Homo sapiens: one gene and its partner. The protein of the gene in region 1 interacts with the protein of each later gene in a biochemical or structural test. Each region holds a gene or a part of one and is shown on either strand. Other genes may lie near its edges. The genes, in order: SCEL and LRRK1.

The links.
Region 2: the proteins of SCEL (region 1) and LRRK1 form a complex in vitro, tested with the Homo sapiens proteins (2 studies listed by BioGRID and IntAct, with this or other methods).

What each region holds. Positions count from the first base shown.
Region 1 is NC_000013.11:77,525,375-77,538,705, reverse strand, and holds the start of SCEL (sciellin), read right to left. Parts: upstream 3,001-13,331; 5' UTR 2,882-3,000; intron 1-2,881. UniProt on the Homo sapiens protein: May function in the assembly or regulation of proteins in the cornified envelope. The LIM domain may be involved in homotypic or heterotypic associations and may function to localize sciellin to the cornified envelope.
Region 2 is NC_000015.10:101,038,985-101,055,356, forward strand, and holds part of LRRK1 (leucine-rich repeat serine/threonine-protein kinase 1), read left to right. Parts: intron 1-3,249; exon of another isoform or gene 3,250-5,154; intron 5,155-6,996; coding exon 6,997-7,168; intron 7,169-9,509; coding exon 9,510-9,673; intron 9,674-10,108; exon of another isoform or gene 10,109-10,659; coding exon 10,660-10,799; intron 10,800-11,649; exon of another isoform or gene 11,650-12,726; coding exon 12,727-12,976; exon of another isoform or gene 12,977-13,405; intron 13,406-13,473; exon of another isoform or gene 13,474-13,937; coding exon 13,938-14,104; intron 14,105-14,238; coding exon 14,239-14,436; intron 14,437-15,961; coding exon 15,962-16,239; intron 16,240-16,372.

The DNA of each region.
Region 1 (13,331 bases):
TTCTTGTATCTAGAAGTAAACCAGTTGTCATTGAATAGGTAGCTATAAAATTCACTGTTCCAATTAAGTATCACAATAAAAGGATGACTCATGTCCTTAAAAAATTTAGTAATCGACATGAAATGAAAGTCTAGTACGTGTAGCTGTCATTTGGCAAAGCATCCATGTGAGGAAGAGCTTCTCCCGAGCTTCAAAATCACAAGTTCATGGAAAAAAATCACAGTTTACCATTTGTACAATGGTAAGCTGGAAACACTTAAGGAATATAACTGATAAAGACTTTTGATTAAGGCCGGGCGCATTGGCTATGCCTGTAATCCCAGCACTTTGGGAGACCAAGGCGGGTACATCACTTGAGGTCAGGAGTTCAAGACCAGCCTGGCCAACATGGTGAAACCCCGTCTATACTAAAAATAGAAAAATTAGTCGGGTGTGGTGGTGCACACGTGTACTCCCAGCTACTCAGGAAGCTGAGGCAGGAGAATCGCTGGAACATGGGAGGCGGAGGCTGCAGTAACCCGAGATTGTGCCATCGCACTCCAGACTGGGGAAAAGAGCGAGACTCCATTTAAAAAAAAAAAAAAAAAAAAGACTTTTGATTCAGAAGTGAGCTTTGAACAACTCCAGCTATGTATGCAGCAATTAATACCTAAAATCTTTATTTCAAAGTACCCAGCCAAAGAAAATGGAAAATGATCAACAAATGGTCTAGAAGCAGGACAATGACAGAAAGCGAAGCCATATGGAACCAATAAAGATTTCCCTTGGACTGCAAGGCCAAAGATTTTATCCCCTCACTCTTAAGAAATGCTGGGAGTTGATGCCTGAACCGTATAAGATACTCTCAGTTAAACAATGTTTGCTTAATTTGACGGCTTCGTGAATTGTGTTCAGTTCATTCCACAGTATGAGCTCAGTCATTCAAAATTTGTTTTGTTTACATAGTCCCCAGGAATATGAACCTCTCAGGTATTTCATCATAATTCTGGTAGTCTGAGAAGGCAGTCAGGTAAGCATCACCTACAGAATGGCATTCGAGGCAAGGGTGTTCTGATTGTACAGACCACAGCTAACACACATACATCAGATCCCCTCCCTGCTGAGGGGCTACTGGCTCCTGAGATGAAAATCTCATAAATATAATAAACGGCAACACTGATTCCATAAGCCACAAGTTGGAAAACGTATTCTATTATGTCTTAGTCATACCATACACACTATAATATTTCCACATGTGCTGGGTAACCACAGTCTGTGATGGAGTGTGGCTCATTTATTGCTACTACATATTTTATGATAAAAAGCATTTGAAAAAATATTGAGAAAATTCAGTAAGACAAAAGACAAGCAATCTGGCATCGTGCTCTGGTTCTGCTACTCTGATCTTCACAAGTTGCTTAACATTTATGCTTTGATTTTCTCAACTAGAAAATTCAGGCATTAGACTAGATGGGCCTATGCTCCGTTTCAGTTGAAATATTCTGTCAATTAGATCTAAGATTTATACGACGCTAACATTCCAATAAAAATTCTGGCCTGTTGTTGGCATTCTATGCATATCCCGACATTTAGGATCATCTGAATGTTTTACTAAAATTTTTACTGTTGTCATTTCTCAGTTTTCTCAAATTGATGTTTCCAATACTTTAAACACTGGAGCACCACATATATTAGGAAGGCTTTATCTACGTTATAAACTATGGAAGTGAAAGACAGTTTTAAATGTAATCACATTTTATGAAAAATAAAATTATCCACACTTGCTACACTTTAGTTTTCTGGTTACTATAAACACTTGAAAGCCAAGTTGTAAAATTCTTCTGTAAACCTTTGGGAAATGAGCACTGGTGTGTCTAACCCCCTCTCAGACTGCAGGTGACCTTGTCAGCAATAGGAAGCCATGAGAACTCAAGTACTACAGATAGAGCCAGGTATGCTGTGGGGGCACCTCTCTGGAGGACACAGAGCTGCAATTTGCAAGCTGTGAGTGGCCCCTGCATTTGAATCCCACAGCTCTGTATCATAAATAGAAATGATGAGAAAAAACACAAGTCAGCTTAGCTATTAATTATAAAAGAAAGCTCTGTTAAAAGAACTCTTCTAGCCTTATCAAAAGTCTCCCAAAACTGGTTTTTCAGGACTAGGCTATGAATAAAGTTTGAAAATTGCCCCCATATACATTAATCACTCCTTAGGTTAGAATGCAGAATATACCATAGAGAAGTTGGCCAGATGCCCACAGATCCCTGTGAGGAACCATGTACCCTTATTCTGCTCCCACACCCTGCCTTTACTCCTTGGTACTTTCAAGTGAGAAATGGTGATTTTCTTATTTGGGGAAGATAGGGTGGAGACAAAAACCTCATAAATATAAACCTCTCTCTCTCTCATAGCTCAGCAACTTGCAATATTTTTAGCAGTAGAGAAAAAAATAAATATGACTTATTAACTATAAAGCAATATTTGAGTTCACTATTTCACTAAAAGCATCATTTATGAAAACAGAAAGATCCTTTAAAAAATGTTTGTATAGTCGCTTGAGAAAATAAACCAGCAGGTGCTGGTCCCTTCACTTAAAGAATTTATTATCCTTTGTGTGGCAGGATTCACCAGCTGACAGCTCCCACCCAGAAAATCAAATAGGTGCTCGTTTCTGTGATGCCCATAACGTGTAAAATTGCCAAGAAGTTCAATGCAATGTGACCTAAAAGTACAGCAAGGAAGAGCAGAGCTAACAGCCAGCTGGAGGCTGTCAAAATTTACAGGAAGAAAAGACAAAGATAATACAGTAAGTTCTAATTTTAATCATTTGTAAGGAACACAGAGAAAGCTGTGCACATACAGCAGATGTATTTCTGTTTGCAAGTATAATTCAACTTACCTCTATTGAGCAGAAAATCAGGACTTTTTGGCTAACCAGCCTGTAGTGATTCCCTGGGAGGATCTGGCTGAAAGAAATGGGAACCTAGAGTTTATTCAGTGGAGTCTCAACCTCTACCTGACTGTATTAGTGAACAGTTCAGAGGTTTCTTGCTCAGCGGCTGAGTCACTCAGGGAGGAGGTGTGTGGTATGCAACAGGGTGTCACCTTGTACAAATACCAGTTCAATTAAAGCATTCTCACTCATATACCTACTGTCTTTGTTTGAATTCTTTGTTTAACTTATGGCCTTATGCAAAAAAAAAAAAAACATATATATATATATGCTCCTGTGATCACCCTTTTAACTGATATCAACAGTATGCACAACCATATCACTGACAAGGTGGCATAGGACCCAACCTATTTTGTATTCTCTTTCAAAAAATAAAATTGAAAACTCAAGATAGAAGGAACCCCCATACACCCATAGTACCTGGAAGGCAGGGGCACAGACAAGCATGCAAGGAGTATATGGCTTAAAGGAATCTTCAAGACAAACAAATTCTCAGAAACCCAGGAACCCTAGGATTAGAAAACACAAAAGAAGTCTGTTCCACACATTCTACACCTAGACTATTTTGTAAAACTATCAGAGGGAAAATACACCTAGCATGTAAGAATTCTAATCTCTATCTTATTTATCCATGTATAAAAAAATGTGAAAAGGGGCCAGGCGTGGTGGCTCACATCTGTAATCCCAGGACTTTGGGCGGTGGAAGCAGGCGGATCACCTGAGGTCAGCAGTTCAAGATCAGCCTGGCCAACATGGTAAAACCTGATCTCTACTAAAAATATAAAAATTAGCTGGGCGTGATGGCACACACCTGTAACCCCAGCTATATTAAATAACTATAACACACCATGATAAAGTCATATACAGAAATTTTCAATGCCAGGCATCGCATAGTGGAGAGAAGGAAGAACCTGGAAGGTGATGTTGATGCAGAGTTTTAAAGTCTGAGTGGACAATGATTAGATGGTCAAGAAGAAGAAGAACCATTCATCCACTCTGGCAGGAGGAGGCAGGAGAATCACTTGAACCAGGGAAGTGGAGGTTACAGTGAGCCAAGATCACACCACTGCACTCTAGCCTAGGCAACAGAGTGAGACTGTCTCAGAAAAAAAAAAAAAATGTGAAAAGGATGGTTGAAACTTCTTTCAATGCTGAGGGCAGCAGTAGACCCAACATCAAAGGCTGCTTCTGGCCAGTTGCAGTGGCTTTCACTTGCACTTTGGGAGGCCAAGGTGGGAGGATCACTTGAGCCAAGAAGTTCGAGACAAACTGGGCAACACAGTAAGAGAAGATCTCATCTCTACTAAAAATAAAAAAATCAGCTGGGTGTGGTAGTGCATGTCTTTGGTCCCAGTTACTCAGGAGGCTGAGGCAAAGAGAGTCTCTTGAGCATGGGAGGACCAAGCCACAGTGAGCTGTGATCACACCACCGCATTCCAGTATGGGTGACAGAGTGAGACCCTATCTCAAAAAACAAAACAAACAGACAAAAAAAACAAAAAAAACCCAACAAAAAACAAAGGCTGCTTCCGCTGGGAGGAAGGAGTAACACTGAAGAGCCATTCTAGGCGGGGACTCCTGTTACAGGTTTTGAAACACACCTTCCCTAAGAGCCAAAGAGGCTTTAAAGAAGCTTAGCAAACATTGTTGAGAGAAGCCACGTCATCAGAACTTCCTGGGTGATCGTCATTCATATGTCACACCAGCAATGAACCAAATCCCCCCTGAACAACTGCTCCTGAAAACTACAATGCAGCTGAGTGACGCCCACTGAAATGACTGTAACAAGAAGCAGAAACCCAGACTGAAGAGCAAGGCAATTGCAGTATGTGGTCATTGTGACTGGGAGACCACTTCCTGTATGTTCCCTGATGTTCCCTTATTCTGGGCTGAGGAATTTGAAAATCTAAAATGGAAAATGTTCTTTCAAAGTAAAACATATATACGTGTCTACTCAGCTTTTTTATGGAATTTTATACATGCAAAATATTTTTAAAATATGCTTTAAGTTTCTGTGATGCCCAAAAATCTTGGTTTGAATATTAATATTACAAATGATAAAGCTGAAAAACAAAGACGTGACTTAACTCAAAAGATAAACTAGAAGCAATCTTCAGCCTTAGAACTTAGCCAAAAAGAAAGAAAACAGTTTAAGAGCTCCCTTGTAGGGATAAGTTGTAATTTACATTACAGAATGTTGAAATATATTACTTCATGAAACACAGAACCAGAAAGATAAGTTTTTATCTTATAATGAAGTAAAGTGCAGCTACTCAAGTTATGGATTTTGAGCTTCCAAGCAATTATTTCTGCATGCAATTAAGGGTTTCTCTTACTTTATACATCAGACCATCCACACTGCTAAGCCAAACCAGTGTTTTTTCATTTAGAATCAAATCTCTAGTATAAAAAGGGACTAATTCTAAACCATTGAGCAAAATTCAGACCTCTTCATGCTGAGCAGACATGACTGCCTAAAATTTAAAATCTCAAATGTGAAGAGGTTGAATCAAGAACGTTTTCGGGTGTGGAGGTAGCCAAATAGCCTGAGCATTAGTTTCACTCAGGTGTTTAACTGGGAAGACTTGGGCATGCTTGGAATAACTTGGCTTCACCACACCTATTCACTTTCAGTGTTGGAGTTCTTAAGATCTCTCTAGAACTGTAAGCTCAGAAGCTGAAATGCCAAATGGGTTTTATCTCAGGTACAAATGCCAATTGATTGGTGATGGCTTCCTGGAGGAATATGTTGAGGTTTGTAAGCAAGTAGGGACTCAACAAGGGAATGTCCATGGTTAATTAGCAATATCCACCACAGGTCTTGAATGGGGGAATGTTTTCTGACCCTGTCTCATAAAATTAGATGTTGCAACATCACATTGCTTTGTCTATGTGTTATATCCAAAGAAACAACCAGCCAAAATGAGCACCGTTTTTTTGAGTTTAGGTTCACAGCAAAATTCAGAATAAACAACAAAGAGTTCATGTATACCCTCAGTGTCCCCATTACCAACATCCCACATCACAGTGGGACATTTGTTACAATTAATGAACCTGCATGGATGCATCACTAACACCCGAAGTCCATAGTTTACATCAGGGTTCATTCTTGGTTTTGTATATTCTTTGAGTTTGGAGAAATGCCTAATGACATGTATCCACCATTATAGTACCACACAGAGTAGTTTTGCTGCCCTAAAAAATCCTTTGTGTGCTGCCTAGTCATACCTCCCTCCCTGCAGCCCCTGTTAACCGCTGTTCTTTTTACTGTCTCCATAGTTTTGCCTTTCGCAGAATGTCGTATTGTTGGAATCATGTAGTATGTAGCATTTTCCAGACTGGCTTCTTTTACATAGTAATATGCATTGAAGTTTTCGTCATGTCTTTCCATTTAAGTTTTCTCCATGGCTTAATAGTTCATTTCTTTTGAGTGTTAAATAATATTCCAAGGCCAGGCATGGTAGGTCACACCCATAATCCCAGCACTTTGGGAAGCTGAGGTGGTAGGATTGCTTGAGGCCAGAAGTTCAAGACCAGCCTGGGCAACACACTAAGATCCTGACTTAAAAAAAAAATAAAATAAAATAACAGTAATAATAATATCCCTTTGTCTGGATGTACCACAGTTTATTTATTTATTCACTTCACCTACTGAAGGACATCTTTGTTGCTGCCAAGTTTCGGCAATTATAAATAAAGCTGGTATAAACATGCGTGTGCAGTTTTCTTTTTTGTATATTTATGCTATATTTTGAACCCAGTAATATATAACATTGTTTGGAAACTAAAAAGTATAAAATGGAATAAATGAAAAGTCTTCCTTTTCCTCCAAACCTTTCTCTCCAACAAAAAAAGCAGTTATTAGTTTCTTCTGGGTCTTTCCAGAGACATTTATGCATATACAAGCAAATGTAAGATATGGATATATTATACTGTTCTGAATATTGCTTATTTCCTTTAAGATTATATTCTGAAGATCTTGCTATATTGATTCTTCACAGTTGCTTGGTATTCCATGACATGGATAGTCCATAATCTATGTCATCAATCCACTGTTGATGGGCATTTCCATTATTTTCAAACTTCTGCTAACAATGCTGCCATCAATAACACTGTACATAAATCAGCTGGCACATGTGTGAATCTGTAGGATAAATTCTTAAAAATGTAATTGCTGGGCCCATGTGTTTGCACATTTTAACTTTGGTAGAGCAAATCTTGCCAAACTGCCCTCCGTAATGGATTTACCAACTTATCCTTCTTATTCTCATTTGTCTTCTTTCAATCATTTCTTCATTTAACAAGCATTAAGTACCCATAATTCTCTTAGTATTGCTTCTATCCCAAGGGAAAGGAAAATTAATGAGACCCAGTCTTGCTCACCAAGAATTTACAATTTGTTTGGAGGGACAGACATTGAATTAAATAGCTATAACACACCATGATAAAGTCATACACAGAAATTTTCAATGCCAGACATCACATACTGGAGAGAAGGAAGAACCTGGGAGGTGATTTTGATGCAGAGTTTTAAAGTCTGAGAGGACAATGATTAGATGGTCAAGAAGAAGAAGAACCATTCATCCACTCTGTCATCTTCTTAATGTCTTCCACATTTCCCCTTAATAGTGAACAATTCTGCAACTTTCCTGCCTCATTTCCTCTACCAAAATAGCAACTTGGCAGCCCCAGCAACCCCAGCTCCTCAGGGTGTTATGGGTCCACATTTTCTGGAGACAATCATGAGCCACACTGCAAATATAGTGTAATTCTCCTGGCTGCAGTCTGAAATAAACCATTCCATGGGGATTAGAAGTAAGAATTTTTTTTCTCCCATTGAAAAAATAAGAATGGCCAATTTTTGTAATTAAAATCTTACTTTTAAACTCAGATTATTTCATAATTTTCCTCAATTTAGTTAATTCTCTTTATTCATGTCTCTTCATCACCAAATACTTAATGGTATTACATCATAAGCCCCTTGAGATCAGAGACCAGGCCTTCACATTTGTTTTTATACTAACACATAGCACAATTCTTGACTCGTATAGATATTTACTCAGACATATACATATATGATCCATATAGTAACATTTAATGTTTGTTGATTAAATGAAGGAATAATAATCATAAACAAGTGTGCATGCATAAGGGGTATTTATTGCTTACCTAAAGTCTGGTTTATCTGGTTTATAAATCTGATTTTCTTGAAAGACTAAAGTATTCTCTTCAATTCACCCGGAACACTCACTGATTTTTTTTTTTTCTTTGAGACAGAGTCTTGCTCTTGTTGCCCAGGCTGGAGTGCTGTGGCACGATCTGGGCTCACTGCAACCTCCGCCTCCGGGTTCAAGTGATTCTCCTGCTTCAGCCTCCCGAGTAGCTGGGATTACAGGCATCTGCCACCACACCCAGCTAATGTTTTTGTATTTTTAGTACAGACGGCATTTCACCATGTTGGACAGGCTTGTCTTGTACCCCTGACCTCAGGTGATCCGCCTGCCTTGGCCTCCCAAAGTGCTGGGATTACAGGGGTCAGCCACCCTGCCTGGCCCTCTCACTGCTTTCTTAAAACAAGGGAAGATTTCTCTGCATTTTACAGAGATTGCTCAAATAATAATTATCATAGCTAAACTTATTGCCCAAGGTTGGAACCCCCATCACCATTGCCTCCTGCCTCACCTTCTCCCCACTGCTTTAAACTACATCCAATTTAGTTCATCACTCAACTATTACTATCAATTCTACCTCCTAATTCAGTCTCCCTTCCACTTGATTCCCACCACTGCCTAATTCAGGCCCTCATCATCCTGAGAAAACACTGTTTTCATCACCTGTTAACTGGTCTCTTTCCAGTTCAACTCTAACCCCTGCTCAGTCAGTTAGGCTCTTTCAGGTTGTACGGATCAGTGATAAGATCTGGAAACCTCAGCTAACGGCAGCACAGTTAAGCAGAGCAGACCCAAAGAATCCAAAATGATGATACTTCGAAGTCTACAGTTTATCACAAGAAAAAGATAAAATGTAACAACTGCATTAAAGTAGAGATAAGCATCACAGCTAGGGGCTGTCTCATAGCAAAAAGCCGGAGCCAAGGGCAAGTTCCAACTGTCCTTTCTCCACAAGGTTCTTCTCAGGATCCACTTTCTCCCTCAGGCCAAGAACCACTGACTTGTGAATGAAACACCCAAATGGAGTTTCAGCTGCAGTATCTTATTCCCTGCTGATCCCATAGACATATCCTGCTACGTGACCCTGCCTCCTGGGGTTTCAGCAGACACAAATCGTCAGTCTCACTGTTATCAATAAACAATAATGATTAGCTGGTAAAAATCAACCTGAAACTCTTGGGGTGCTTGGTTACAAAGCCATGCGACCAATCAGTATGTTTCAGATCAGGGCTGTGCAGGCTCATTTCACATTTCAGCAGAACAACTCAGGCTAGCTTCAGGCCTGCTAGAATTAACCTTCACATCCCAGAGGGTTTAGTATAAAGATTTAGGGGTGGTTAGGAAGACAGAATATTGTCTCAGCAGCCTTTCTTAGATCTTAAATATACAAGCTGCTCATTACTTTGCAAAACCAACACTAGTTGGCACAAATCTGGGGACCCAAGGACAGCTCTGAGTCTCGCATGCTCATGACTCAGCTCTCTAACCTTGATTCTCTACCTGCTTCTTTCTGCCATGCTACCAGTTTATCATAGTCTCTATATGTTTCAGTTTAAATCCCCTGAGAGAGATCTGCTGAGTCAGTTAGCCACCATCCCATACTGAGTTTCTGTGGGAAGAGGTCTTGCACGGGGCCATCTCTTGGGTCTCTGGCTAGCCATAAAAGGACAGACACCTACACCATCTCAGTTAGCTGTGACTAAAGCAACAGCACTGATGGTTTAATGCATGGTTCCCCTGAGCCTTGGAACTGCTAAAAGTGAACTACAAGCATGGCCTTGCATACAGTTGTAAATTTCTCTCCAGTAAAGACAGTCCATTCCCTAATGCTATTTTTCCAAAAGACAGATATAATCATGTCGCTCCCCATTTTCCAACCCATCATAAGTTCCCCGTGTTGCATGAAATTCAAACATTTTAGATTCATACACAACTCTGCTGTCTAATGTAGCAGCTACTGTTCTACATGTGGCTATTTAAAATTTTTATACTAATTAAAATTAAATAAATTTACAATTCAGCTCTACAGTTACACTGGCCACATTTCAAATACCGTATTGGATGGAGAAAATAGGAAATGCAGAAAGTTGGTCTAAGATGTCTTGTTAAGTCACTTTCAACTATTCCAGCCTCATCTCCCACCACTTCCCACTATGTGCCCTAAGCTTTAACCACATCAAAATCCTTGCTGTTGCCCAAACATATTATAATATTTTAGGCTTTTAATATCTGTATTAATGCCATTCCTGTGACTTGAAATGTCCATTTCTTGTGCACTTTAGTGATCTCTTACTCACTTTCTCAGTCCCTGCAAACACAAAACCTGATCTATGGAGCTTTTCCTACCATTTCAGACGCCAATCACAGCTAGCTTCCCCCTTTCTCCCTGCTCCAAGGGAACTCTGTATATTATTTTATTGTAATACCCAACTGCATTATATGATAATCTAGTTGTACCCAGCATACCATATGCCATTCTAGAAGAACTTAATAGCAAAGGCAGTTTAACTATTGCTTAAGAGTACAAATTCAGGTGCCAGATGGTCTCTGCCAATGACTACTTGAGTAACCTTTTGGCAAGTCATTTAACTCCTCTTTTCTCAGTTTTCTCACCTGTAAAACGAGAATAATAAAACAGTACCTTTCCCATAGGGTCATTGCGAGGATCAACTGTGTTAACACAGAAAAAGCACTTAGAACAGGGCCTGCAATTTTGCTAAGGTGCTATCTAAAAGTTAACTCTTAGTAAACTGTTAATACATTTTATTTATTCATACATGAGGTATATCTAAGAACAAAACCATAAGCACAATTAGTAGTTCTCCTCTTCTCAGGCACACTTACTGTGCCCAGTGGTCAAGCTCTTTAATACACAATGTTGTTGATAAATATCATTAGTTTTCTATGACTAAATGTAGGTTTTAGAAGGTATATGAAGATCCTCTCAAGAGTCAGTCCCTGGGACTTATTGATGGTTTTCTAAAAGGTTCATCATGCAGGAACTTCCAAGAAAAAAGGAACAGAATGAGAGGTGTCCCTGTGGAGTGCAGTGTTTACTTTAGTACTGCATAATTCATTTCTCTTGGATGATAACTTGTTGCTTCTTACATTCTCTTCTGTTTGATTGGCATGGCATTTTTCTCTTCTTAGACCCAATCTTTCTTCTCTTTCCTCAGTGTTCCCATATCCATCACAGCAGAGTTTTCTTTCTTGAAATCTATTTTATCTCTCCCCTAATAATCCATGGTCATATTAGTTTTCTATTGCTCATGTAACAAATTGCCACAAACTTAGTGGTTTATAGCAACATAATTTATTATCTGATAGTCCTGGAGGTCAAAAGTCTAAAATTAGTGTCACTGGGCTAAAGTCAAAATGTCGGCAGGGTTATTTCCTTCTGGAGGCTCTAAGGAGAGAATCTGTTTCCTTGACTTTCCCAGCTTCTAGAGGTCAGCTGCATTCCTGGTCCATGATCTCTTCGTGGTGTCATTTCAACCTCTTGCTCTGCCACCACATCTCCTGTCAATGACTCTGATCCTCTCATCTCCCTCTTATAAGGACACTTGTGATTATATTGGGCCCACCTGAATACCCCAGGATAATTCTCTCATGTCAATGTATTAATTTAATCACATCTGCAAAGTCCCTTTTAACATGTAAGATAACATATTCACAGAGCCCGGACATTAGGATATGAACATCTTTGGGGGACCATAATCCAATCTACCACACCTATCATATTTTTACAATGTTTCCAAGTTTCCTATAACTTCCTCTATTTTTACAATTAAAAAAACCTAAATATTTCATTAAGTAAATGAAGTTCAAAATGCATGCAATAATTTGATTTAGTAGATAGATACAAGAGAATTCTATACTATTATGACTTTTATTAAGTTAAAGTAGGTGACATATTTAGATTGCTTCTAAAATTTTGTATTTAAAAGCCATGTAAACAAATGCTAGAAACACATGAATTTTTATAGTCATTTTCTACCTTCCATTCATGAGTGACATGAACAGTATTCATTTAACAGGCATGTTTTCAAATGATCACAGGATGCTTGAGTATTGGTTGCAATGATTATGTGAGACCTGTGCCCAGCTACATCTGGGGGAAGCATACTACCTAAGCTGTATATACTACCTATGCACGTATATGTACATACCTCCACATATATGTACACAATATATTTATACTTATGGATCTCTAATACATATGAGATTCATACATATATAATACATATATAGCAGACCTACACACACACACACACACACGTTGACAGCTCTGTGTCTGTCTCCCCTATCATAATGTAAACACCTTGAAGACTGAGCCCTGAGCTTATTTATCCTTGAGTCTTCGGTAGTCCTGACTTAGCCAGTTCTCAGCGATTGTTTCTAGGATGAATATACCTGCATTACCATGTGACACATGAGGAAATGGGACAGAAGCCATCTGACAAGAAAATGAAATGGCCAGGCTCTTTCTTTGCCCGCTTCTCCTTCTCAGCATCTCAACATTGAATAGACTACGCTAGGAAAATGTGGCTCACATGGTCTCCCTCGTTTATGCTAGTGTTTCTGTTGGTATTTTCCTTTACTTCTTGCACATTCTGATGGACTGAATCTCTCAAACCACTGGGGTGTCCCAAAAGTGTGTCCTTGTTCCCTCCCCACTCACAATATCTGCAATATCTGAAAAGCCCTCACCTCCCCCACTCACTTCCTCCTCCAGTTCACTTATTCCATCCACCCCCTTCCACCTCATCTTCAAATTGTCTCCAGTTCCTTTACTTTATATAATCAACAATAAACCCTCCAGAGAAAAGAGGAGAATTCTAGAACTTTTTAATTTTCAAGCTTTATTGTAAATTAGTGGACTATCCTCTATTGGAACAAAATTTGTGATAATTTTAATGGTATCCCTAGAAAACAGGGATTTTTAAATACTTTGGAATTGGTATACTTTGTTATTTCTTTAATTTTACAATATCCCCCACCAATACCTCATTCCTCTCTCAACTAAAAGTTATTAAAAAATAGTTGGCGTCAATAATTTGGGAGTGTGTGTGTGTTTGTGAGTGAGAGAGAGAAAGAAAGAAAGAGAGAGAGAAGCTTTGAGGTCATTGAAAATACTATGAGGTAATTTGCTCTTTTTAAATTTTTGACGTTTTTAACTTTTTACTGTTGATTTGTATTTTATTTTCCACTTATTTACTTAATAT
Region 2 (16,372 bases), on another chromosome or scaffold:
GTAAGGTAACAATCACAGTTCTAGGGTTTAGGACCTGGATATTTTGGGGCTCATTATTCAGCATATGACACCCTCCAATTTTGTTCTTCTGTTTCAAGATTATTTTGGATTATTCTAGATCCTTTGCATTTTCATCTAAATTTTAGAATCAGCTTGTCTGATTCTTAAAAAACCGTTGTGATTTTTATGGAGATTACATTGAATCTATAGATCAAAGAAAGCTGACATCTTAGAAATATTGAATCTTCCAATATGAACATGGTATATCTCTCATTTATTTTGGTTTTTAAAAAGTTTCTCTCCACGGTGGTTTGTTTTCAGTATTCAGATTTTCTGCATCTTTTGTTAAATTTGTGTCTACATAATTTATGTTCTCCGATATGGGTAAATGACATATCTTCTAATTTGATTTCCATTTCTTGTTGCTGGTATACAGAAATATAATTTATTTTTAAATATTTACCTTATATCAAAAAACCTTGCTAAATTCACCTATTAGCTCCAGTAGATTTTTCAGGATTTTCTAAGTATGCTTCTTTTTTGAAAAAAAGACAGTTTTACTTTTTTCATTCTAATCTTCACATATTTTTTTGCTCTGTTTGCCTGATTGCATTGGCTCGGATCTCTAGCGAAGGTTTAAATAGAAGGGATGAGAGAAGGCGTCATTCTGTGTGATCTCAGGGGGGAAGCATTCAGTCTTTCACCATCAAGTGTGATGTTTTCTGCAGAGCTTTGTTATCCATGGAAACTTTATCAGATTGAGGAAGTTCCCTTTTATTCCCAGTTTGCTAAAAGCTTTTATCATAAATGGGTACTGAATTTTGTCCCCCAAAAATGCTTGTTCTGCCTCTGTTAATTTTTTTCTTCAGTTATTTTTCTGTTAAATATGTTGATGGATTTTCAAATGTTAAACCAACTTTGTATTCCCAAGATTCATACCAAGTGTTCATGATTTATTATCTTTTTTATCTAATGCTAGATTTCAGTGGCTCCTATTTTGCATAAGAATTTTTTAATCTATGTTCATGAGGGATATTGGTTGGTACTTTGATGAAAAGTCTTTATGGGTTATCAGACATAGGCTGTCTTCATAAAATGAATTGAAAAGATTTTTTTCCTTCTCTATTTTCTTCAAGATTTTGTATAAGATTGGTGTTAGACCTTCCTTAACAGTTTGATAGAATTTATAGCCTGGAGTTTACTTCACAAGAGGATTTTTAATTACAAATTCAATCTATTTATTAGCTATAGGGTTATTAAAATTTTCTATTCTTGTGTCAGTTTTGGTAAGTTATTTTTTTTTCAATAAATTTTTTCATTTCATCTATGGTGCAGAATATATTAATATAAAGATATTTAAAATATCTCTGGAATGTGTAGTGATATGCTCTCTCTCCTGATATTAATAATATGTCTTTTCTCTCATTCTTTCTTGATCAGTCTTGCTAAGTGTTTATCAAATTTTTGGAACCGTTTTAAAGAACGAACCGTTGCCATTGCTGATTTCTTCTATTATTTTTCTCTTTTATTTCATCTATTACTGCTCTTTATTATTGTCTTCCTTCAGCTAACTTTGGGTTTAATTTGTGCTTCTTGTTCTTCCTTCTTAAGGTAGAAGCTTAGGTCATTTATTTTAAGCCTTTCCTATTTTCTATGTAAGCATTTAAAGCCATAACTTTCTAAGCACTGCTTTATATGACAAATACAACTAATTTTGCTATGTTGTGTTTTTATCATTTAGTTCGAAAGATTTTCTAATATATCTTATATTATTTTGGTCAGAGAATATATTCTAAGATTTCTGTATTTTGAAATTCACTGAGACTTATTTTATGGGCCAATGTGTGATCTTTCCCAGTGAAAGTCTGGAGTGCACACAAGAAACGAGTTTTCTGTGTTGTGGCTGTAGTATCTTATAAACCTTAATTAGCTCAGAGTGGTAAACAACGTGTTCAAATCTTCCGTATTCTCACTGATTTTTTTCCTACTCATTCTATCAATTACTAAGAGAGAGATGGTAAAATATCTAATGATAAGTCTACCTCTCTCTCCAGTTCTGACAGGCTTTATTTTATATATTTTGAAGCCATTATTGGTTACATATACACATTGGTGTCATGCCTGTGTAATGAAGTGACCCTTTTTTCATTATACAATGTTTCTCTTTATCACTGGTAATACTCCTTTTCTTGAAGTCTATTTTGTCTGATGTTAAAATAGCCACACCAGCTCTTTTAGTTCTACCTGGGTTTTTTCCCTATTCTTCTAGTAGCAGGTTATGATCTCTATAAAAAAGGAATCTCTTGCTGACAGCACATTATCCAATCTGATAATCTCTGCCTTTTAATAGGAATATTTGATTCATTCACATTTATCATAATTAATTATATGGTTGGGTTTAAGCCTACTATTTCTCTATTTATTTTGTATTTATACCATCTGATTTTGTTATTTTGTTCATTCTTTCCTGCCTTCTTTTGAGTTAAATTTTATTTTAGTATTTTCATGCTCTCTGTTGGGTTTTTGGCCATTCTTCCTGGTACTGTGTTTTAGTGGTTACTCTTGGGATTAGAATATGCATCCTTACCTTATCACAATCTACTTGTAATTAATATTATACCACCTTGAATTAAATGCAAAAACCTTAGCACGATACCAGGACATTACTCCTCCCAGCACCCTCTGTACTCTTGCTGTCATCCACGTTTCTTCTATACAGTAGTCCCCCTTATCCACAGCTGGTGGATTTCCAGACCCCCGTGGATGCCTAAAACTGCGATAGTATTGAGCCCTACATATACTATGCCTTTTCCTTTATCTACATACCTATGATGAAGTTTAATTGTAAACCAGTAAGTGATTAACAACACATAGAAATTAACAACAATAACAACAAAACAGTATAATTATGATATACTGTCACAGAAGTTACATAAATGTGGTCTCTCTCTCTCTCTTTCTAAATATCTTGATATTTTTGGACCAGTAATTGAAACCATGAAAAAGAAACTGCAGATAAGGGAGGACTACAATATATGTAATGAACCCCATAATATAGTGTTATTACTTTTGCTTTGAATAATTAAACAATCAATAGTCTTTTAAGAAATTAAGGGAAAAATGTTGATTGTTTCTGGTGCTCTTCACTTCTTTCCATCTGGTATAATCTCTTTTCATCCTGAAGAATTACGTGTAGCATGTCTTAAAGTCTAAGTCTGATGGAAACAAATTCTCTTTTTTAGACAAGACTTTTGTTTATATGAAAATGTCTTTATTAACACTCTAATTTTTTGCTGGATAATTTTCTTCGATGTAGAATTCTGGGTCATTTTTCTGTCAGTCTTTTTAAAGGTGTCACCCCATTGTCTTCTGGGCAGACAGGGGTCCTCCTCAGTCTTCGTCACCCCTGACCCCTCGCTGAGGACCTCTGACCCCATGCCACCTCCTCTCATGTGATCAAGGATGCCCAGCCACCTGCTCTGCTGCAGCCCAGGGGCCTCTGAGAAGCCTACTGCCCCTCCGAGAGCTCTGCCACCATCCTCCTGTGGCTTTTACTGCCCTTACACTCCCCTACTTGTTACCTCTTACCCACCTGCCCGGACCCTCAGTTATGCTGTCAGCCCTTGAGCATTGGGCAGCACACTTCTCTGCCTCCCCACAGCATGTGCTCTGGCCCTGGCATTTGGCCCATGGAAGGCAGGGGAGAGGGAGTGAGGCCCCCTATCCTTACAAGCAGGGTGCTCTTGTCGGGGGATTTGTGCAGACTCTTTATGAGCTATTACTTAACTTTTCTTCCTTCAAATTCTCACTTTTGAGGCTTGGTTTTCATCAAAACCAAGTGTAGTGTTGGCTTCTTCTTTCCTCCTACTCTCCTCTGTGCTACCCATTGCCAGGATATATCTTCTGAAGTAGCTGAACTGAACGCCTCCCCTCGGGGTGGGACCCCTACGAGGGCCAGGCTGGGGGAGCACACGAGGGGTGAGACCTGCCATGATGCTCTGCCCTAAACCAGCTTGGTCCTCAGGCCTCTGAGTACTAGTTTCCATATCAGCCGCTTCCTGGGTTTGATGCTGATATTGGCAATGAAGCTGTATCCAGGATCCAAATCCACAGGATCCAAATCCACAGAATGTTGCCATGCAGCACCCAGAGAACACGTCGCCACTCTGCGTCCTCAGCTCCAGATCTCTACAGGGGTGTCACCTGGAGACTTCTGGGGAGCAGGCCTGGATCCTGCACAGTGAGGCCAGAGACCCGGCCACCTGGGAACCAGCCACTGGCCCCACCTTTGCCTGAGGCCCCACCCACCTCCCACTAGGTATGGGAGGGGCCTCAAGTCTTTCTTGCTGCTCCAGCTCTCTGGGTTCCTTACAAAATAAAACCCCAAAGAGGAATTCAAAATTCCACAGCCCCTCATAACATGGCCCAGCGGTGTCCTTAACTTTGGTCCATGAGAACGTTCAGAGTAAGGCAGCCTGTGTGTTTACAACATTGCCGGATCTGACAACTTTCAGATTGTTTTATCGCAGGTTAGAGGAGTGAGGAGATACGAGTACTCAGTAAAAGAAAGTCAGTTATCTATATGAAGTCAGTTTTTATATGTATAAAACGTACACGTATTTATAATGTGTGTGTGTGTGTGTGTTGGCCTGAACAAGACCATCAGTGTGATCACGGCCAGGTCCTCACCAAGGCTTATGGCACAGCAGGTTAGAATATGAAGTTGGGACGCACAAGTATGAATCCCAACTACCTTCTTTCTCGTCTGCATAATGGGTATAATATAATTACCATAAGTATGATAGTTGTTGTGAGGATTAAATTAGATAATACATGTAAAATATTCAGACCAGCAGAAAGAAACAGTAGCAGGCATGTCCCAGGGCCTCCTGCATGGGAACAGCCACTGACAAATACATGTAAAATACTCAGAACAGTGTCTCTTAAGCTCCCAAGACATCCAGTATTGACAGTCCAGTTATTGTTACTGTTTCTTCGTGGTAGGTACTCATAGCCATGGTGTCGGGTTCTGTACACATCCAGGAATAGTGGGACACGTTTCATCTCAGCACAGGCATAATGGTTCCCTTGAGCCCCAGGCAAGTCCCCGCTCCTGGCATCATCAGCTTTCTAAGGCTGCTGGGATCCCTGGATCTGTGCAAACAGACACATTTGCGGCTCCTCTCAGAGCATGGTTTCCCACCTGCAGTGAACCCCTCCAGCCCCTCAGAAAATCTCCATGAACTCCCTGGAAGTACCATACAGTTTTAAGCCTTTGTGCTTCTTTCAGGAGGAAGGTCCTTGCCTCTCAGCAGACTCTGAGAAGGGCTGCGGCCCCTGTCTGAGGCTGTCTCAGTGGGGTGGCATGAGCCAGCACCTCCGTGCAGACACTGTGCCCTGCCAGGGTTTCACTGCTTTACGTTCATCAAACACATGAAGAATTTACCTCTTAGGACCTGTCCTGCCGACTCACTGGTCATTCCCTGGGACGGCCTTTCCCAGCTCGTAATTGCTCTGAAACCCGGAGCCAGCGGCCTCCACTACCTGGAGACCACTGCTTCCCTTGAGAACTGGCTTCTGTGGCCACTCAGGATCTCTTTATTTGCCATGTCACCTTCTAAACCTCTGCCCTCAAAAACATCATGGAGCACCTCTTCTGTGTGCCACCGCACATCGTGCTGGGACGCCTGGGGACAGAGAATGCTCCCCCCACTCTCTAAGCACACTCCGACAAGGAGAAGAGCAAGACAGACATGGGGCACCACCACTGTAAGAGGGCCACATGAGAGACCCAGGATGCATGAGATGAAGTAGAAAAAGCAGAAAGAAACAGCAGGCACGGCCCAGGGCCTCCTGTATGGGGAACAAACACTGAGCAGATAGAGAAGCAAGGACTTTTCAGATGTAAAGGAATAAGACAGGACACTCTGATGAAGAGGCATCTAGCGAGAGGTTGGGAATGTCCTTTCACTCAAGACCTGAAAGGCTGAAAAGGCCTCCTGCTTCACCACCTGTGTCTGCTGTGTCATCTGCACAGCCCCCGTCTACCTTCACCAGCCCTGCCAAGAGGGGATCCTTTCTCTCCCCATTGTATACCCATGTGTCAGAGCGTGTAAGTGAGAGCCGAGACTTGCGCCTGTATGCTCGGGCCATGGGCTGTCACTGAATTTTCTTACAGTTTAGGGAGTCTTTTCCAGAAAGTTCTAAGGACATTTATTGGACTGAAATAGATTTAAGATTAGGAGAGCTGAAGGTAAAACCTTTATTGGGAAGGAGTGCAGCATCTGCACACCAGGGGCCGTCCTGTACCTGTCCAGTGCCTGCCCCCGCAGCCCCACAGGATGCAGCCGTTGCTGGTTTTCGGGCACCCTTTTGGAGGGACCTCCCAGGTTTCAGCCGTGAAGCCCTTGCCGATGCAATGATGCAGCATTTTTATGATGACCGAGAGTGTTCTCGTAAAACATCCCTCTTCCGCACAAAACAGGCCTATTCTAACTTTTAAGGCAATCGCGTCGTGTCAACGGGCCAAGAATAATAAATAGCTTTAAAGGCCAAAAATGTTACTCTGACCCTAATATCTGCATTGTCCTTGAAACCTTGCAGCTGTGTTTGTTTTTCCTTCATCAACCAAAGTTAATGTTATTTCCCCAACTGCAACCCCGTTTATAGAGAATTGAGTCCCATTTGCTGTGTCTGACATTTTTAGGACCATGATGTTTTCATGTCTTCCCTTAGCCTTATTCTAGTATCTTAGAAACCATGATAGACTCATATTAATGGGACCAGTCTTCATTTTCCTTTGGAGTATTTATTCTTAGCATATAAACCACGCTTCTCTTACTAATAACAGAATTCCAAAGGCCCTGGGAGGAAGGAACCCAGCAGCCTGAGGTGTTCCAGCACAGCCTGTCCCCAGATCAGGCCATCTGCTGGGGTCAGGGCCCTGCAGTGGAGCTTGGGCCCCACTGTTCACCAGTCCCCCTTGGTGTGTTTCAGCTACCTCCTGCCCCATCTCCTTCCATCTAAACCTGGCCTGGACACCCACGGTATGCGGCACCCCACAGCCAACACCATTCAGAGGGTATTTAAGATGAGCTTCGTTCCCGTTGGCTTCTGGCAAAGGTTTATAGCACGGATGCTGATCAGCCTGGCGGAGATGGACCTGCAGGTATTATGGCTGCGGTTTCTGCATAGACAGATGCCCGAGAGCCACCTACAGTTGTACCACTGGGGGAGGGGAATGCCCTTTGCTGGGGGGCCCTGCCTGGAGACCCTTCTCCTAGAGCCATGCCACCAATGTAGTGCCAGGGGGCAGGTGTGGCATGGGCTGCTGGCCAACCCACTGAAGCCATCCTGGGAGTTCCAAAGCAGCACCCTCCTTAGACAGAACACGCCCTTTATAAACAGTGGTTCTCAGTGTTAGCCCACCTCAAAACCACCTGGAGTTTGTTAGAACACAGTTTGGTGGCCCCACCCGAGGTTCTGATTCAGTAGGTGTGGACTGAGGCCAAGAATTCACATTTCTATCCATTCCCCGAGGTGATGCCGCCGGCCCAGCAACCACACTTGGAGAACCGTGAAGTTAGAAGCACGGTTTTGCCGTCCTGGCTGCACGCTAGACTCGCCTGGAGGAAATTCTAAAAGACACAGACCACACTCCAGACCGATTGAATCAGGGTCTTTGAGTGTGGCATCATTTGAAAAAGTGATTCCTCTTTGGTATTTTTAAGGCTCCCAGGCGAGTCCCCTGTGCAGTCCAGTTTGAGAACCACTTGTGCAGAACTGTACGTTGGTTCTGGTAACACGGGAGACCCCCCGCCCAAGGAGTTAGCTTCTGTGGGTTTACCTGGGGTTACAGGAAGGCGTCCCCGCTGTCAGACAACATTAATTTCATGCAGGGCAGGAACATGGAAGCAACATTTGCTACAGTGGTGTTTTTCAAAGTGGGGTTCCTATACCAGCAAAATCAGCCTCACCTGGGAACGTGTGAGGAACACACGTTCTCAGGCCCCACCTCAAACCCACTGCATGAGAAACTCCAGGGGGAACCCCGCACTGGTTTTCACAACCCTCCAGGGGATTCTGACACACTTTTGGTTTTGCGAACCTCTGGCATAATCCCTGACTGTCAAATCCTTGACATTAAACTCCGTATGAGTTTACTGTTGCTACATCCTAATTAGAAAGCCCTTATTGAATTATAACTTCTTAGCTCTATAAAAATGTTCTTTGATCTTCCCATTTTTACCGAAATGGTAAGAAAAAAATCAATGCAAAAGCCTTAAAGTCCATCGTGACAGTAGCAGCCTGTGCTAGCGGGGAGGGAGATGGGTTAATAGCGCCAGAAGGGTGCACTGATTGAAGGAGTGGGCGCAGGCGCTGGTGCTCCTACGTTCCCATTCCTCTGCCCTCCCTTTGAACTCTGTGTGCCGCTGTCTTCTCAAGGGAGGGTCATGGAGCACTAGCATCGTGGGAGGCTGAGCTGACAAGTGGGGCCCAGCTGGGCCTGGAGGCCAGGGCGCCCTTCCGGGCAGCAGCTTCCCTCACTCGAAGTTAGGAAAGAAGTCCTATTGAAATTCAGATGGGTGACAGGAGGGGGAAAAGAGTGCAGTCTCATCACTCATCAAAGGCATGCAAATTCAAGCAGCAGTGAGATGCCAGTTTTCATCCATCACATTAGCAAAAAGCTGAGCCGTAATCCCCAGCCCGGGGCACGGAGCGGCCCCGCGCACACTGGTAGTCAGCGCACAGGACAGTCTCGTCGTTCGAGAAGCGATTCCTCGGGATACATCCAGAGCTTTAAAACGATCAGACCCTTCGACCAATAATCCGACTGGTAAACATCTAAACTGAGGACATCATTTTCAATCAGAGAAAGCTCTGTGCCTTTCTCATGTAACTCAAGGTGGTTTTGAGGGAGCAAAAGATTGGCACCAACTTACACTTCCAGAAGAGAGTGGTTCAGGAAATTACTATGCTTAATAGAATATTAAACTTTAGAAAAATGAATTTTATGTGTGTTTTTAATGGCATAGGAAAGGTGGGGTTTTTTAACATATACGAAATTAGAAATCCAATATGGCTTCAGCTGTTTTTCACAAACATATGGAGATAGAAAAAAAAAAAATCCTGGAATAATATATACCAAAATCTGAATGATCTCTCTGCTTGGTGTTAAATTGGTGTTTTGTTTTCCCTCTTACATTTTTCTGTATTTTCTACATTTTCTAATATGAATTTTTGCTTGTAAAGTCAGAAAGGGAAAAAAATTTTAAAGGAAAGCCTATTTTTCAATTCTTTGGAAAAACTGTGTTTCCGGAATTCCCTGGAGACCCCGTCAGCTAATGTAACGTTCAATTTGGCAGCAGGGATGAGCAGCGTGGGAGGAGAGGGTGGGAAAGATGGGGGACATTTATCAAGATGGGGCCCAGCCCGGCCTCTGCAGAGCTCTGCCCAGGGCCAGCGAGGAGCCCAGAATACTTAAGCAGGGTCTTTTCTCTGTCTTTCAGCTTTTTGAAAACAAGAAGAATACTAAAAGCAGGAACAGGAAAGTCACCATTTACAGTTTTACAGGAAACCAGAGAAATCGCTGTAGCACATTCAGAGTGAAAAGAAATCAGACCATCTATTGGCAGGAAGGGCTCCTGGTCACTTTTGATGGGGGCTACCTCAGGTAGGAACACCTGGAAGCCCACCTGCCAGGTCAGCAGGTGCCACAGCAGCCACCGCGGGGCCACGTCAGCAGGATGCCTCATCCTCTTGGTGTCCAGAATTTTGCTCGTGAGAGCGGCTCGTCATGGCAGCTTGCTAGAAATGTGAGGCCCTCCCACGAGTGTCCCAGAGGCTCCGGTCTCCTCACCCCTGCTGAGCCCCCCTTGCAGGACGGGAAAGGCAAAGGCAGATGTGGCGGCCACAGCTGAGGACTTGAGGGACGTGGCGGCCATTGAGCTCAGGAGAGCCTCAGGCACTTCCCATGGTTATTCAGGTCACCATGGTGACCTTGCAGCCATCCTGCCCGTCCCCTTGTTCTGTGAGAAGCCAGGCTGGGGACAGGGGATGCTGAGACTCCTCAGCCCCCATCTCCACTGCCCATAACCAGACACGGAACTCAGCTCCCTGTGCCATTTATTCTTGGTTTTTTGAGAGCGGTAGACCTAAAGTCAGCCCAACAGGTTTAACGAATGATAAACACCCAAGATTATTTTAATGTTTACAATGAACTTTGCAAAATATTCTTCAGCTCTGTGAGAGGAGAAGAAGGGAAAAGGGGAGGTAACTTTACAGAGGGCTTGATTGGCACCTGCCTCTTCCGCATAGATGTTCTCACTTAAGGCCCAGGGTTGCTGCTGGACAGATGAGCATACTGAGGTTCAGGGAGGTCTGGGAACTTCCTTAGGGCCTCACCTGAGGGTCAGCTCCCAGGCTGAGCGTCCCTGACTGCAATCTTCCTCGTGCCTCCTTCACCAGGCCAGGTCCGGGGCAAGAACAAGGCAGGGCCACGCACACGTACATACAGGGAGGAGTCCCCCATCGGTCCTGCAGGGCACAGAGTCTCTCCAGGTCCCCGGGGGTTGGTTCCTGTCCCTGGGGGTAGGGATATCATCCCAGGGTCCCCCAGAGCCAGATCGCAATGGGCTCCTTTTGGTCTCTGGATTGCAGTGTGGAATCTTCCGACGTGAACTGGAAAAAGAAGAAAAGCGGAGGAATGAAAATTGTTTGCCAATCAGAAGTGAGGGACTTCTCAGCCATGGCTTTCATCACGGACCACGTCAATTCCTTGATTGATCAGTGGTTTCCCGGTAAGAGGAGATGCTAGAAGCAAGCCCTCATTCATGCTAATATTTCTTATGAATCAGGGTGGGGCTGCTGCTTTCGGGGTGGACAAAAATCCCACTGGGATTCAGCCCAAGAAAACTAGGGGGTCTTAACAGCACTTTGGTGGGAGTCCTGGCCCCCGAGAAGTCCAGCTCTGTCACTGGGGGGAGTCCCACGGGGAGGACTGGGCTCGGACACCACTGGGAATGTGCAGGGAAGCGGCCTGCCAGCTGCCCACAGGCGTGGCAAGAAAGATGACACTGGTACCACGAGTGGTCCACGGAGATGCTCAGTGTGAGCTCACACGTGTCTTGTTTTCATAGTGAGGACTGTGTGGCTGAAATTGCAGGGGAGCCGGCAGATGGAAATTTATCCCCTGCGCAGGGGCAGGGATGGAGGGGAGCCGTGGCAGCCAAGGGGCCTTGCTCTCCTCCCCTGCCACCCCACCCATCCCGGCGGTGATCAAACCACTAACACCGCCCTTCTCAGACCCTTTGGATCTGTTTCTTCATTGATAGTTCACCCAAAAAAAGTACTCTTTGAGTGAAGTTCCTGAGGCCTCCTGTTTGTTTTGCTCCTGGGGTGGAGACGACTCCCAGAGCAGCCTGCCAGGGGGAGGCCATCTGGGGTTTAATGGGGCAAGCAGCTGTGGGAGGGGCTGCCCTGAGAGCTTCAGCCCTGAACGCTGGAGGCCAAGCAGCTGTGGGACAGGCTGCCCGAGAGCCTCAGCCCCTGAACGCTGGAGGCCAAGCAGCTGTGGGAGAGCGGGTTTGGAATTCCAGTGCCACCCCTGCAAGCCTCGGCTGGTCCCCCGGCCTCCTGGGCCGGCCTCACCTGCATGCAATGCCTGCATCCCAGACAGCATCAGGGAAGGTGGCTAAGAGGCAGTGGCAGAATGCACTCAGGATACACATTCCAGATCCCAGGGTCTGGTCTCTGTCAGGGTTGGGGTCCTTCACACTGTTGGCAGGAAGGGTGACCTACAAGGAAAAAAGGCTTAGAAAGGAGCCCTCGGAGAAGTCAGCTGGGTGTGCGTGTCATGGTGATTTGGGAGGCACTTGGCTGTCTAAGGGGGCCCTTAGGCCCATGTGAACCCTTCTGGGCACTTTGCAGCTCCCCACCAGCCAGTGTTCCCCACACAGCAGGTGCTGGGCAGTTTGACAGGTGGGTCCCTTAGACAGTCACCTGAGATGGAAAGGGCTCTGGTGAGCACCTGAGACAGATCGCCTGGAGCCAGCATCCCCAGCCAGGGGCCCCTCCCAACGGGATGCCTTACACATGGACCTGCAGATATCAGATGTGCCTGGAAAGTTCTAGGCATCCACCTCCTACCTTGCATGAAGCAGGCAGTTGGCCGGCCCTGAGGGCACCTCCACAGGGCATCTTGGAGGGTGTTTCTCTGCACCTCCTCTCAGAGGCGTGGGGGAATCCCGTGTCCGGTGACTGAGTTTCGTCTATGATAATTTGCACTCATTTCTGCCCCTGCATTGCCCTTCATGGACATTGTAAACCTGATGTTTCTAATTGTAAGAAGGGTGCCTTCCCCACTGCCGTGATGGTTGGAGGATAGCTCACACCTAGTCTGCGATGACCTGTTAGGGCCCAGTCATGCAGGAGGGATCCCCCCACTCCTCTCAGGCCCCCCAGCCAGCCTGCTCAGTGTCCCGACCACTGGACAGTTCTCGGAAGCATCCTGAACCCTCCCTGGACACATCTTTCAGGACAAACAATTGCGCTCTCCAAAAAGGCACCCGAATGTGGCAGTGGGTTTCAGCCTGTCTCTTGGGTACAGGCCAGGACAGGCAGCTCCCCTGCTGCGAAGGCCTCAGGGCCTGGGGTGCAGAGTGCTGCTCGGGGGGCCCTCCTGCACCACCTTCTTGTGAAGCTGTCTCCTGCTCTGTCCTTATTTAGCCCTGACAGCCACAGAGAGCGACGGGACGCCACTCATGGAGCAGTACGTGCCCTGCCCGGTCTGCGAGACAGCCTGGGCCCAGCACACGGACCCCAGTGAGAAATCAGAGGATGTGCAGTACTTCGACATGGAAGACTGTGTCCTGACGGCCATCGAGCGGGACTTCATCTCCTGCCCCAGACACCCGGACCTCCCCGTGCCGCTGCAGGAGCTGGTCCCTGAACTGTTCATGACCGACTTCCCGGCCAGGTATGCCCCGAAGGCCCCTCCCAGAACACAGTGCAGGTCACAGGGGGCGTTCCTCGCTGTGCAGTTGCCGAGTGATCTCCAGGAAGACCCCTCTGGGGCGGGCAGGTGCCCCGGCCATGGCTTCCCACCAATCTCAGTACCTTTTAGGTTCCCATCCTCGGCTGCCTGAAAGGAACCAGGCTGCCGGCTTTCCATTTTGGAGGCCTTGATAGGCCCAACTGGGAAGAGTGCTTTGCAAGTGCAGCCATCCTGCCTCCCCATACGGCTCCCCCTTCCCCTCGTAGCCAGAGCTGCTCTCTCCTGAGCTGCCTCTCCTTTCCACTCCTACCTCCCCACCAGCTCTAGGGCCAGCAGATAAGTGCAGCCAGTGCTCCTCAAGCATTCAGGAAGGGGAGAGAAGGGAGAGCTCCCACCCAGAGCCTTGTTTACCTTCTTTGTCAAACGCTGACTCCTGTCTGTAGCCCTAGCGCTGAGCTCCCACCCAGAGCCTCGTTTACCTTCTTTGTCAAACGCTGACTCCTGTCTGTAGCCCTAGCGCTGAGCCTTGGACCCCTCAAATCTGTTCTTAGAGTTTATTGTACCTATGCTAACCCAAGATCATAACTAGAGAGAGAATCGGGGAGGAAATAGGAAACGTCACCTTTCAGAAGAAAACTTCCAAAGGGGTCCTTTCTCTACGGCCACCACTTCTGTGGGGTTCACCCTGTGCCAGCCATCACCACCTCTGAGGCCGTTCCTGTCCTGAGAGCCCTCTGTACAGAGGAGACTGAGGCTTAGCAAGCCTGCATAACCTACCCAGGTGTGCTCACCCACAAGTGGCAGGGCCGGGGTGGCCCAGATCTGTCCAGCCTCACAGATGGCTTTGAACCATGACTCTCGGCCGTTGGGGCAAATGACCCAGCCCAGGACCCACCCGCATCAGGGCGGGGGGGATGTGGCTGATGCCGGGCGTGTGTGGCAGGCTCTTCCTGGAGAACAGCAAGCTGGAGCACAGCGAGGACGAGGGCAGCGTCCTGGGCCAGGGCGGCAGTGGCACCGTCATCTACCGGGCCCGGTACCAGGGCCAGCCTGTGGCCGTCAAGCGCTTCCACATCAAAAAATTCAAGAACTTTGCTAACGTACCGGCAGGTAAGCGGGTCCCAGGTTGGTGCTGTTTTTCTCAGACATATGCTGCCCGGGTCTAAGCTCTGTGCGGCCTTAGAGAGGCCTGAGGCTGCAGGCACCCCATGTCCTACTGGCTGACACTGCGCTGTCCCTGGCAGACACCATGCTGAGGCACCTGCGGGCCACCGATGCCATGAAGAACTTCTCCGAGTTCCGGCAGGAGGCCAGCATGCTGCACGCGCTGCAGCACCCCTGCATCGTGGCGCTCATCGGCATCAGCATCCACCCGCTCTGCTTCGCCCTGGAGCTCGCGCCGCTCAGCAGCCTCAACACCGTGCTGTCCGAGAACGCCAGAGGTACCGCGGCGCGCCGCCCCACCCGGCCCCGGAGACCGACAGAGCCCCGGGCGCCTCCTGCCTGGCACGGGGGGTAGAGCCTCAGGTGGCCTTGGCAAGCCCAGGGCACGCCCAACCCATGGCTCGTGTGACCATCCCCTGGCTGCGAGGCCAGGCTCCCCGCCAGGTCCAGTCACTAGGCAGAGCCTTGGCGAGGACGGGGGAGCGCACACTCTGGAGTCGGCTAAGACCAGGCTCTGCCGCGGTCCGGAAAGCCGCTGAGTTTATTTGCCTGTAAAAGGAGGATGGTAACAGGCCTCGCTGGGAGGGCACCGAGCACGGGAGCTGCATTGAATCACTTTCCCAACTGCACACGTACACGGCTGCTGAGACTCTGAGACCGCAGGGTCAGTGGGACCATATTTTAACATAAAATGTCGAAGTAATTTACCTTGAGAAAAGAGCAGCTAAACTCCAGAGTGGCCAGAGGGTGAAAGGTAGCTGTCTTTTGACTAAGGAAGAAGAAATGCTATGAAAATCAATCACTTCTGCCTCAATGGAAGATAATTTTTTAAACAGAATTCTTTACTTTTTTTTAATACAGGATCTCACTTTGTTGGCCAGGCTGGAGGACAGTGGTGCAATCTCAGCTCACTGCAGCTTTGACCTCCTGAACTCAAGCCATCCTCCCACCGCAACTTCCCGAGTAGCTACAAGCACACGCCACCACACCCAGCTAATTTGTTGTTGTTGTTTGTAGAGATGGCCTTTCACCCTGTTGCCCAGGTCGTTCTCGAACTGTGAGCTCAGTCGATCCCCCCACTTTAGCCTCCCAAAGTGCTGGAATCACCGGCATGAGCCACACGCCCAGCCAAACAAAATGCTTCTACTTGCCTCTCACCCCTTTACGTAGGACAGCCTTGACCTGAGGTGAACTCTAGAGATTTCGAACCCTTGCTCATTCAGCAAAATGCCAGCAATTCCAGGAATAAGATATCAGGAATGAAGCTACAGCGATGAGCATTTCTATCCTAAATACTGTTTCACTTAACCAGGCCATTCTCTGTCCTTTATGGCAGTCTGGTGAATAGTGAGAATGTGTCAATGGAATATAAAGTATCTAAGGGCCAGGCGCAGTGGCTCACATGTGTAATCCCAACACTTTGGGAGGCCCAGGCGGGCAGGTCGCTTAAAGCCAGGAATTCAAGACCAGCCTGGCCAACATGGTGAAACCCCATGTCTACTAAAAATACGAAAATTAGCCAGGCATGGTGGCACGCGCCTATAGTCCTAGCTACTCAACTTGGGAGGCTGAGGCAGGAGAACTGCTTGAACCCTGGAGGCAGAGGTTGCAGTGAGCCAAGACCATGCCACTGCACTCCAGCCTGGGTGATAGAGGGAGACTCTGTCTCAATAAAAGAAAAAAGAAAAAAAATCATAAAGTATCTAGGGAGATCGGAAGACAAAAAGACAGTTGTTATCATGATAATTTGATTCTATCAAAACTGAAATTTTGATACATTTGAAAATTGTTTTTCTTTGCAAGATTCTTCCTTTATACCCCTGGGACACATGCTCACCCAAAAAATAGCCTACCAGATCGCCTCGGGCCTGGCCTACCTGCACAAGAAAAACATCATCTTCTGTGACCTGAAGTCGGACAACATTCTGGTGTGGTCCCTTGACGTCAAGGAGCACATCAACATCAAGCTATCTGACTACGGGATTTCGAGGCAGTCATTCCATGAGGGCGCCCTAGGCGTGGAGGGCACTCCTGGCTACCAGGCCCCAGAGATCAGGCCTCGCATTGTATATGATGAGAAGGTACGTGCCTGGATCCCCTGGCCCAGCCCCACAGTGTAGGAGCCCAGCCCTCAGGCTAGCCGGGCAGTCCTGGAGGCACCTGAAGCTTCGGGGCTCAGCATCCCCAAAAGCACATTTTTCTCACTCTCCCTTG